3 linked regions of the Homo sapiens genome follow. The protein of the gene in region 1 purifies or fractionates together with the protein of each later gene. This does not show direct contact. Each region holds a gene or a part of one and is shown in the gene's direction. Other genes may lie near its edges. The genes, in order: PICALM, CLINT1 and CLTCL1.

Region 1 (3,751 bases):
AAACAAAAATGCAATTATGTATTCCCTCCCCTATCCCCCCACCACCCCCCATACACACATTAAAATTCTTAACCATGGGTCAGCTTATATCGACCTTTTGGGTAAAAGACATTATTCCTTTGAAACTTCAGAAGCACGAGTTTGTTTTCTGAAAAACACATGCCATTGCATACCTTTTAACTTGACATATGACTGAAACTTTTGTCTTAACAATCCATTTTCTACAAAGACTGCCCTTATATTTATTAAAGATGACAAAACCAAAACCACTTCTTCTTTCATACATTTTCTGCTTTCATGTTCTGTCATTCTGAGATCTTTTTTTCTTTCCCTCTCTCTGTCTTCTTTTCCCCCAGCTGTCGGCAGCATCCAGCCCCTCCAGTCACAGTCCTCACAGAGCTTCAGGAAAGGACCCCTTTGCAGAGCTCTCTTTGGAGGATTTCTTATAAATCACTTTAGGTATTGCTACTTGTTTTGGGAGATGGGGACTTAAATACTTAAAAACAATTACCAAACATTAAACACAATTCACGCTTCTCTTTCATTTCTTTAAAGGACTCTAGGCTCCCTCTCCTCCTCCTCCTCTTCCTCTATTCTTTAGGTGCAGAATGAAAAGATAGGACATAAGGAAAAACAACTTTTGGAAAATATCTGTAACATAATTATTTAAAGTAATCTCATCCACTGCTCACAGTAAATGGATGAGATCGGATAAAGTTTGCTTTTTAATTAAGGGCAAGTGAATACTTAAGCCCTTTCGATTAGAAGGATTCTGCATATGATCCACACTGCCTCTGTTTGCTGGAAGACAGTGTAATTTGTTCTTCTTGATGCTCTAGCCCCCAGTTTAGATATACCTTCTAGATCTTTGGGAGTTTATAGTCTTCTGATTTGGCAAGTTTATTAGCACATCTACTTCAGTAATCTTTGGATGGGCAGTTTAAGGGAAATTGTGAGTGAAATATCTTTGAATGAACAGTAGTACCCTATTGAAAAATATTTTTATGGCTCTTTCAGGTTCTTATTTATGTTAATAAAAAGACTTAGTATAATATTACTGTTCCCTTTATTGTCTCTAATTGTATATCATTTGGAAATAATATTTCAAATTTTGCTTCCCAAATGAGATTTTGCTTGTGGTATTTGTGCTTATGGAGAGATTTTTCTGAACTTGTCATGAAAAAATAGGTCATTGATCTTCTTTCTTTTCCTCCTCCACATGCTATTCCTCTATTTTTAGCAGTTAAGTATTTGGCCTGGATGTGGTTGCTTATGCCTGTAATCCCAGCACCCTGGGAGGCTGATGCGGGAGGATCACTTGGGGCTAGTAGTTCAAGATCAGCCTGGGCAATACGGTGAGACCCTAGTCTCTACCCCCACCCAAAAATTACCCAGGTGTGGTGGCGACTGTCTGCAGTCCTAGCTATTCAGGAGGCTGAGGCAGGAGGGTTGCTTGAGCCCAGGAGTTCCAATGAGCTTTTTTTTTTTTTTTTTTTTTTTGAGATGGAGTTTCGCTCTTGTCTCCCAGGCTGGAGTGCAGTGGCACGATCTCAGCTCACTGCAACCTCCACCTCCTGGGTTCAAGCCATTCTCCTGCCTCAGCCTCCCGAGTAGCTAGGATTACAGGCGCCCGCCACCACGCCTGGCTAATTTTTGTATTTTTAGTAGAGACGGGGTTTCACCATATTGGCCAGGCCAGTCTCGAACTCTCGAACTCACCTCAGGTGATCTGCCCACCTCAGCCTCCCAGAGTGCTGGGATTACAGGTGTGAGCTATGGTGCCCAGCCATTGAGCTTTGATCATGCCACTGCAATCCAGCCTAGACAGCAGAGCAAGACTCTGTCTCAAAAACAACAACAAAAAACATTATTTGGAAGTCCCTATATGTGTCAAATATTGAGCTTTCTGGCACATAAGTTGATAATACTGACTTTGTTTTATAAACAGGGTTTGTGATAAGCATGTTGTGAACACTTCTGGGCCAGTTAAATGGTAAAGACCACAAAGCATTTTTATTTATGAGAAGACATCCTACAATACAATGAATTAACATACCCACTTTTTTTTTCCAGATACAGTTTATGTAACTTGATGGAAGAAAATGGAATTACTCCAAAAAGACAAGTGCTCAAGCAGCAAAATCCTTACTTCCAGCAAAATCCAAACTGCTGTCTCTTAAATCTCTTAAACTCTCTTCTTCCATTAGAATGCTACAAGTAACTCAGTGAAGGCCCATGAAGGAAATTGGGACTAGTTTATAGGAGAACGTATCAATACAGTTTATAAAGCCAAGAATTGCTATGATTTAAGACTAAGATCTGTCTTTTTGGTGACTAACCCTTCAATTCTTTCAACTCCTGTTAATACCCATAATCAGTAACCTATCAAGAAAAGCCCTTATTTGGAAAGTGTGAAATTTGTATTTGGAAAAGCTGCCTGGAGAGAAGAACTGTGTCCTTTACTGTATTTCAACAGGACTCTTTTGGGGGATCAAAATTAAAATTCCTAATTATGCATTATCTTTCTTTTCTCCAGTCCTCACAAATACAGAAACAATAACTGAAATTAACTTTTCTTTTTTTAAAAAAAATTATATTCAGTTTGCAGTAGACATTCCTTAAGTATTTGTATTTATTTATGATTATCAATTTTACATAACATTAATATTGTATCAGACCTCCTTATGAAAATGAGTATGGATGTGCACAGTATGTTTGATTTTTATCCACAAGAATGAATCTGATTCAGAATGCTTTTCTCAGCTGACATACAGAGCACTAAATATTTTAAGGCAAGTCCATAGGTCTGAATCTCTTAAGAATTCTCGGCCTCTGTGGGATTTAGGGAAGCATTATAAATGCATTAATCCTTATAGTCAATTCTGTGCCTAGGATTTTGCCAGGGAACAGTTCACTGACTAGGAAAAGCACTACATTTTAAATTCAGCATTAGTGCATTGGGAAGGATCTTTACTGCTTTGTGCTTGGCATGTCATTATTTTCCATTTGACATTAGGGCCTTTCCAAAATGAATGTGAGGAATTGCTTTCACTTCAAGACTTTCCTTCTTTTCACTAAAACTCTAGAAGGTGTTACAAGGGGGAGGGAAGGGGGGCAAAGTCCTTGAACATTTTCTTTGGCTCGTGCCATGTTATGATCATATACCTTTTAAATAAGGGGAAATAGTATCTTTAAAGTTAATGTCTAGCCAAGAGTTTAGTAAACGAAGAATTAAACTGCACTGTTGATCGGTGCTTTGTGTAAATACATCTTTAACATTTGGGTGGAGAGGGGCCTTAAGAAGGACAGTTCATTGTAGGAAAGCAATTCTGTACATGAGTTTAAGCATTCTTGTTGCATTGTCTCTGCAGATTCTATTTTTGTTTACAATATTAAAATGTATGTTAGCAAAATGGGTGGATTTTCAAATAAAATGCAGCTTCCACAAAAGTTTTGTTATGGTATTCTGGTCTGAGATGCATTTTCATTTTTCCTTTCTCTTTTTATTATCAATATTGTCATTTTTCCCTAATAAAATATACCCAGGTGATTATATTTGTTGATCTAATAACATGGAAGGTTTGTTTTATATGAATTTTCAAAAAGATGTCTCTTTACACTTTTTGTTACCTTGTAGACTCTTATTGATAAATGCAACTACTTATTAAAATTGTTCACTTTTTGTCTTTTGATCAGATGCCTTTAGTCAGGTAAGTTTAAGGGAAAATACGCAGTTTAATGTTTTGGTACA
Region 2 (3,751 bases), on another chromosome or scaffold:
TCTCTGGGATCTTGAGCTGGATAGTCTTTTCAACAAAAAAACACAAACTTCTTATTTGAAAGCCCTATTCCTCTACCCATCTCTGCTCATCTTTACCTGCCTCTCCCCACCCACCTCTCCAACTCACTTCATATCAGCCCAAGTACTCCTACCATTACAAAGCTCTGAGATAACTTTGGATTTCTGCTTGTTGTAATTTTCTGCCTGTCAATTCCTTCAACCTTGCTTCTTTCTCTTGGGGCCTCAATCCGAAAGCCTTACTGAAACTTTTTTCAAAGCTGCTTTCGGTAATTAAGTGAATGCAACTTGGAGAGGGTTTCCTGTAGTCTCAGCTACTTGAGAGACTGAGGTGGGAGGATTGCTTGAGCCCAGGAGTTTCAGATCAGCTGGGGCAACAGAGTGAGACCTCCAGCTCAAAAAAAAAAAAAAAGAAAAAGAAAAAGAAAATAGAAAAGAGGTGGTTTCACTTGAGGGACCAGGGTCCGAGGTTGTTTATTTGGGATTATTGTTACCTAGCTTCATGACTAGCAACCATCAATTTCACTTCTTTGTGAATTGGAGTCTTTATTTGATCCTTTCGAGGGATCCTTCCATTTCAACCTCCTAAGTAGCTGGCCTCACAAGAGTGTGCCCCAACGCCTGGCTTTTTTTTTTTTTTTTTTTTTTTTTTTAAAGACTGGGCTGGCAGGGGGATCTCACTTTGCTGCCCAGGCTGGTCTCAAACTCCTGGGCTCAAGTGATCCTCCTGCCTTGGCCTCCCAGCCTCCCAAAATGCTGGGATAACAGGCGTGAGCCACTGTGCCTGGCCTGTAATGAACTATTGTAGAACCTAAGATTGGCCTTTTAAGACGTCTTTTCAGGCTTTTGCATTTCTGACAAACGGATGACCCCACCCAGACCAGCCACTCCTCTGCTGGCCCTCCATCAAGAAGCCGATTCAGCAAAGGAGAACCATTTTCCATACTCCTCTGATTGCATCCCTAACCAATCAGCAGCACCCATGCCCTAACCCTCTGCTCACCAAACTATCTTTGAAAAACTCTAGCTTCCAAATGTTCAGGAAGATTGATTTGAGTAATAACTCTGTCTCTCAAGTGGCATGGCCAGCCTCATGTCAAACTCTTCACTGCAATGACTTGGTCGCAGTGAATTGACTTTATCTGTAAAGTGGGCAGAAAGAACCCGCTAAGCAATTACACTATATGCAATTATCTTAAATGTTTCCTTGATTATTATATGTTTCTTCCAATTACGTTTGAATTCCAAGAGAGCTGGGTCTTTAACTATATTCCCCACTTCTGGAACATACAAGATGCTCAATAAATATTTGTAGAATGAAAAGAACTGTAAAATTTCAGCAGATGGATCAAATGAAACTTAAGGTTGCTTGTAGCTTTAACATGAGCATTGATAAAAATGAGTAAGTAGAGAAGGAAGTGATGACAACCATTGCAACAAAGCAATGGAAGCAATGTGCATATTTATCCTTAAAAAACACAAACCTGTCATATGTATGTGTATGTGTGCGTGTATATATAATGTTGGCTTTTTAGTTTCCCGTGGAGTGTGAACTGAGTTTCTGAGGTTTATAGTAAAGCATTTAACAAGGATTTCAGGTAGTTGTCTAAATATAAAACATTGTATCATAGAATTAGAGCGGAAAAGGATTTAGAATACAAGTTCTTCAATTTTACAGGGGTGGAAACTAAGGCCTAGAGATCTAAGTGTACTTGGGCATTGGGAAATAAATACAGCGATGTGTCTGTCGATGAGGAATGCGTATGCCAATCATACTTCTGTATAATCATTACTAATAACATAGTAATACTGCCTTACATTTGAAAAGTGTTTGAGTGTGACTAGACCCTGCACCAGTGGTTCTGAAACTTGAGCGTGATCAGAATCACCTAGAGGATTTGTAAAAGCACAGATCGCTGGGCCCCACCTCCAAAATTTCTGGCTCGGTAGGTCTGGGGCCGGGGACTGGGAAAGCTTAAGAGAAACCATCCCAACTCCTCTCAGCTCTCCCAACTCAACCTCTCAGCTCTCCCAACTCAACCGGCCGAGCTCGGCACTCAGGGAAAACTACAAGTCCCGGCGTGCCCCGCGCGCAGCGGCGGAAAGTCGGACACTTCCGCTCCACGCAGCGCCTGTGCTGCCGCGTCTCGACGTGTCACCGGCGGCGCCGCTGCTGTGGCAAAGGAAGGAGCTGACTGGGGGAGTTCGAGGCGGCGGGCGGCGGTGACCCCGGCCTGGAACTGCCCCGGTACGGAAGTGTTCCGGGGTCCGTGGGGAGCAGGAGAGGGAGGCGGCGGACCGTCCCGCGCGGGGCACGATGTTGAACATGTGGAAGGTGCGCGAGCTGGTGGACAAAGCGTGAGTATCGGGGGGCAGTTGTGGCCGAGGCCCACGTGGGGGAGGGGGGAGGGGGAGAAGGAGCTGGCCTTGGGCTAGGGGTTGCCCACGTCACGCCCCCTGGCTCTGCCAGCCCCATCATGGCGGCGGCCCGCTCCTTCCCGGCCCCGGGCCTCATCCCCGCTGGCGAGGCTGGGGAGGGACCCTCCCTCGTTTTAAAAAAAAACATCCTCTTGGCCACCCTTCTCTCCTTTCCAGGCCTTCCCGTCCCTTCCCCTATTCCAACCCCTGGGTGCCGACGCTTTGGTCATAAGGGGCGGGTTGTTTGGCGCTGGGTCACTGCCCTGGCCGGAGGACTGTCTTGGCCCCAGGCCGTGGGCTTTGCCTCCTGGGGAGCAGGGAAGGTTTGGGGGTGGGGGGCACAATGCACTGGTTCCCTGTGTCCCTCAAGGTGTAGTACGGAGAGACCTTAGACCTGGTTGGGGTGTGTCTTTTATCTTCCTTGCCTCCTCTTAATTCCTAATGAACCTGAAGTGTTGGAGTGGGTGGTAGTAGTGTAACAAGTGGCTATTGTGGTCAGCCTGAAGTTACTCAAGAAGACACTCATCCTTTGCTTTTCTAACACTAGTGAAAGTAGATCACTATATGACTTCTTGCGATTTTTTCTTCTGTTTCTTTTTCCACTACACATCATTTTTGGTGTGCTACTTGTTCCATTCGATTAAATTAAGAGGTCATTAAGAAATGTCCTCTTAAGGAAAAAAACAACCCAGGTTTATATCCTGTTGATCTGCTTTTAAAAGCAGGTAAAACGACCAGTACGTAGTTGATTTCCTTTAAGACTGAAATAACTTTAGTCTCTTACTTGCACAAGGAAAACCTTAACTTTTAAAATGAGTATATCAGGTATAACAGTGGTTAAGTAAGGTCTTCTAGGCCAGCAGGAAATAAAGTTTAAGAATTTAAGCAGTCCTCTTCCTTTGGGGCTTTAATGATTATGCAATAAGTGTGGTGAGAAAAACAGTTGATTTGTGCCACCCACCTAACCTAAAATCAGGAAGTATAGATAGCAAACTGTTTTCTTGACACCAGGAAACAAAGTAATTTCCAGTGCCTTGTCTGATACATCAGATAGAACTTAGAGCTTGACCATATTTTTATATTTTCTGTGCTACCAAGAAGGCAATAGAGTGCCTAAGGAGCACAGGTTTCAGAACCTGCAAAGCTGGGTTCAAGCTTTATAACCTTGGGGAAGTTACTTATCCTCACAGTGCCCTAGTTTTCTCTGGTACAAAATGAAAATGCAACGATACCTACCTTAGAATGTTGTTGTGAGGCTTAAGGGTTAAGGGATTGTATTGCATATAAAGCCCTTAACAGAATATGTTTATATTAG
Region 3 (3,751 bases), on another chromosome or scaffold:
CAGGACATGCTGCTGGTGATGTTATGTATTCCCATAAGCTTGATGTTCCCAAGCCATCCGAGTGTTTTCGCAGTTTCACTGCTGTGTGTGTGTGAGGCAGTAGCAGGTCCTGGTTAAGAGCACAGACTGAGGCCAAACTGAAGGCACTGAATGTGGACTCAGGCACTTACTGGCTGTGTGATTTAGGGCAATGTTTGTAGCTTTTTTGTGCTTCTATATCTTCATCTATAAAATAAGGATAAAAGGTATACTTCTTATCTCACAAGGTAGTTGTGAGGTTTTTGAGTTAATAAATGTAAAGCATTAAACAATAACTGTTACATAATACAGTAGTCCCGATTTACCCATGGGGAATATGTTCTAAGACCCCCAGAGGATGCCTGAAACTGCAGATTGTTCTGAACCCTTTATACACTTTTTTTCCCTATGCATACATATGTATGATAAAGCTGAATTTATGTTAAGCACAGTAAGAGATTAACAATGATAACTAATAATAAAACAGAACAATAATAACAATATGCCAGCATCACTACTGTTGGACTTTGGGGCCATTATTAAGTAAATTAAGGGTTACTTGAACACAAACTCTGTGATGCTGCAACAGTCAACCTGGTAACTGACCGCTACTAAGTGACTAATGGGCTGGCAATGTCTACAGCGTGGATATGCTGGGCAGAGGAGGGATAATTCACGTCCTGGGTGGGCTGGTGCAAGATTTCATCACTCTGCAGAATGGTATGCAATTTAAAACTTATGAATTGTTTATTTCTGGGGTCTTACATTTAATATTTTCAGACTATAGGTAACAGTGTGAAAAAAACCACGGATAAGAAGGGACTACTGTAAAGCACTGTGTCCTTGTGAGCTGTTGCTGCCATTGTGACAGCTGCCTACTGAAGAAGGCCAGGAAATGGTCAGCAGGTTCCTCAAACACAGTGTTCATAAATGGGGTTCCCTTTCTCCCCAGATGTGTATCTTGTCCAGTGTCCAGCCAGGAGCCTGGGATGTGTTTTCCCCATCCTGTTGTCCCTTTCTCCTGTTTACTTTTGGCATCGTTCTGCCACTGTCATCATGACTACCGTTTCCCTAAACTATGCCATCCCTCCCCACCTTGATGGTCATGCTAGCTTTGTCCTTCTACTTCTAGTCTTGCCCTCCTGTGATCCATTCTCCAGCACACAGGCAACATGATCTCCAAGGATGAGCATCTGCTTAAAGTCCTTCAGGGAGTGGTTTCGTGTTTCCTCTGGCATGAAAAGACTGATCCCCACGTGCTCTTTCCTGTTCTTCCCAGCCCAACACCTGCTCAACTCTGCTGCCGCTCCCTTTGTGTCCTTGCCAAAACACATTCTCCTCTCACCCCTCTTTACTCACTGACTCCTACTGAGCCTTCTGGTATCTGTGGAAATGACGCTGTCTCTGGAAGCTCTCCCTGATTTGTCAGTTAGGAGTTCTTCCTCTGTGCCTCTTTGGGGTTCCTCTTATAATGACACTCTTCCCAGGGTACTGTAGCTGTTCATTTTCTCTGCTGGATTGTGAGCTCAGGGAGCTACCATTTGAACTTTTTAGAAATATTCAAATGTGAGAGTTGGAAGGGTATTGCTGTTTGTAATATCTGAGGATGGGCTGAGCACTTAAGACATCTTGATTCAGAAGAGGAATGGCTGAATAGTTTGGTGACATAAAAATTTTCTTGAGCCCTAAGTAATTCCCCCCAGCTATATCAAAAAAGCAGCTCCAAGTTTGTAAGCTGTGAAATGTGTCATAGCTCAATACACAGAAAACGTAAACATGTTCCCTCAAAGTGTCTCTGAGGCGGTGTTTGAAACAGGTGTAGAGACCTTGAGCATTAGAATTGTAGGAGAAAGATGGTCAAGATCTTAATCAGTGCTTCTCTACCTAGGCTGCATGTGAGAATGGCCTGCAGCCTTAAACATATTTCTGCTGGATGTTAAATCCAAAGCTCTGAGTGGTGGAGATGGAGCTTTGGTATTCCTTCCCAGGTGAGTCTTACACACAGCCCAGGTGAAACAGCCTTCTACATGTTAGTCAATATTAATCATTAAGGAAAGAGGGGGGAAAGTAAAACTGTGAAGGTGTAGATTGAGCTTGAACTGAAAACAGTTCCCATCCACACACACCCGTGTGTGTCTGGAGAGGCTTCTGGGGGTCATGCTCCAAAAAGGGACACGTACCCATAGTAATCCAGTCCATATTTGGTTTATGTTGCCATTATGTAGCTATCTCATTTTGTGAAGTGGTTTTTGATGTACTAAGACAGCAGTTGGCTCATTGCATCCTAAAATTATTGCATCCCATGTAAAATGTCATTTTAAGATACCATGTAAACTGTTAAATTTTGCCTGTTGGCCTACCACTGCTTCTGGTATTGGAAATACATACTGGCCAGTTAGTTGCCTTCTGACTTGTTTATTTACAAAGCAAGGAGAGTAACCTGCCTCAGCCAGGGTGTCTGCGAGGGTGAGCCTTGTGGGAGTACCTACCGCTGTGGCATTGTGGGTGACCAAAGAGTAAATGAATTTGAATGGGGACTCTTTGGAAAAACAGATCTTCACCATAGAACATTTAAATGTTCAGAATGCCTAAGCTACACAAACCAGTGCTTTTTTAGTTGGTTGGGTTGAAAGAATTAAGTCCTAGGAGGATCTGAGTCAAGGTTCCTCTCTGCTGAGATATTTCTGTTGCAGGGGCTAGTCTGATGGGAATTAAAATCTTTCAGTTCAGCCTCTGTCTGTCTCTCCCCAGGGGAAACCACTATAAACGAAGCCACCATATCCTTCCAAAAATGTTCAAAAGAATCCTGCTTTAAATATGCTTCTGCCCTTTGCTTTTGTAACTTAACACACTGAAGATCCTCCCATAGGATCACAGACAGATCACTGCATCTATCTGACATGTTGTTTATCAGTATTCCCTAGGGTAGTAGTTGCTGGCACCCTGTCACCCCCTTCTCTAAGGGGGAATCTTTCTGCAATCTGTCTGATTTTTCCTTCCTTTGCTTCTTCACTGAGACTTTACTGAGTTTGCAGGCTCTTCTCCCACATTTTCTTCCACTTCTCTTGAGGCCTGCTGCTGGCCTCCATGCCAGAGAGATGACCATCACTCTTGGCAGGCTGAAGAAGGATGCCACAAAGCTGGGATAGCAAAGTTCAGTGATGAAATTAGAATCGGATATATCTTGACAGGCCAGAATCCAGCTAGTTGACATTTAACTGGGATAAATATAGAGTCTTGTGCACTGGTGTTAAAATAAAGAAAACCTGTAATAGTGTAATTTGAGAGAAGTTCTGTAAAGCATTATATAAATGTAGTTAACTATCCCTGAACTAACCTACTCCTGGAATGTAAGTTCTGGAAGAGACCTTAGTGTCAACATTCTTCATAGGCCCTCATTTACAGAGCTCCCTCTTTAGGCTAGGAAAGGCTCTTTGGTAAGTTTCTTTTTCTTTTTCTTTTTCTTTTTTTTAAGATGGAGTCTTGTTCTGTTGCCCAGGCTGGAGTGCAGTGGCACAATCTCGGCTCACTGCAACCTCTGCCTCCAGGGTTCACGCCATTCTCCTGCCTCAGCCTCCCGAGTAGCTGGGACTACAGGCACCCACCACCACGTCCAGCTAATTTTTTATATTTTTAGTAGAGACAGGGTTTCACCGTGTTAGCAAGGATGGTCTCGATCTCCTGACCTTGTGATCCGCCTGCCTCGGCCTCCCAAAGTGCTGGGATTACAGGC

Evidence for each region.
Region 2: the proteins of PICALM (region 1) and CLINT1 purify together in Homo sapiens (affinity purification with mass spectrometry; 3 studies listed by BioGRID and IntAct, with this or other methods). This does not show direct contact.
Region 3: the proteins of PICALM (region 1) and CLTCL1 purify together in Homo sapiens (affinity purification with mass spectrometry; 3 studies listed by BioGRID and IntAct, with this or other methods). This does not show direct contact.

Annotation. Positions count from the first base shown.
Region 1 is NC_000011.10:85,957,383-85,961,133, reverse strand, and holds part of PICALM (phosphatidylinositol-binding clathrin assembly protein), read left to right. Parts: intron 1-356; coding exon of another isoform or gene 357-449; exon of another isoform or gene 450-459; intron 460-2,073; coding exon 2,074-2,088; 3' UTR 2,089-3,751. UniProt on the Homo sapiens protein: Cytoplasmic adapter protein that plays a critical role in clathrin-mediated endocytosis which is important in processes such as internalization of cell receptors, synaptic transmission or removal of apoptotic cells.
Region 2 is NC_000005.10:157,857,555-157,861,305, reverse strand, and holds the start of CLINT1 (clathrin interactor 1), read left to right. Parts: upstream 1-2,160; 5' UTR 2,161-2,335; coding exon 2,336-2,376; intron 2,377-3,751. UniProt on the Homo sapiens protein: Binds to membranes enriched in phosphatidylinositol 4,5-bisphosphate (PtdIns(4,5)P2). May have a role in transport via clathrin-coated vesicles from the trans-Golgi network to endosomes. Stimulates clathrin assembly.
Region 3 is NC_000022.11:19,285,014-19,288,764, reverse strand, and holds part of CLTCL1 (clathrin heavy chain 2), read left to right. Parts: intron 1-3,751. UniProt on the Homo sapiens protein: Clathrin is the major protein of the polyhedral coat of coated pits and vesicles. Two different adapter protein complexes link the clathrin lattice either to the plasma membrane or to the trans-Golgi network.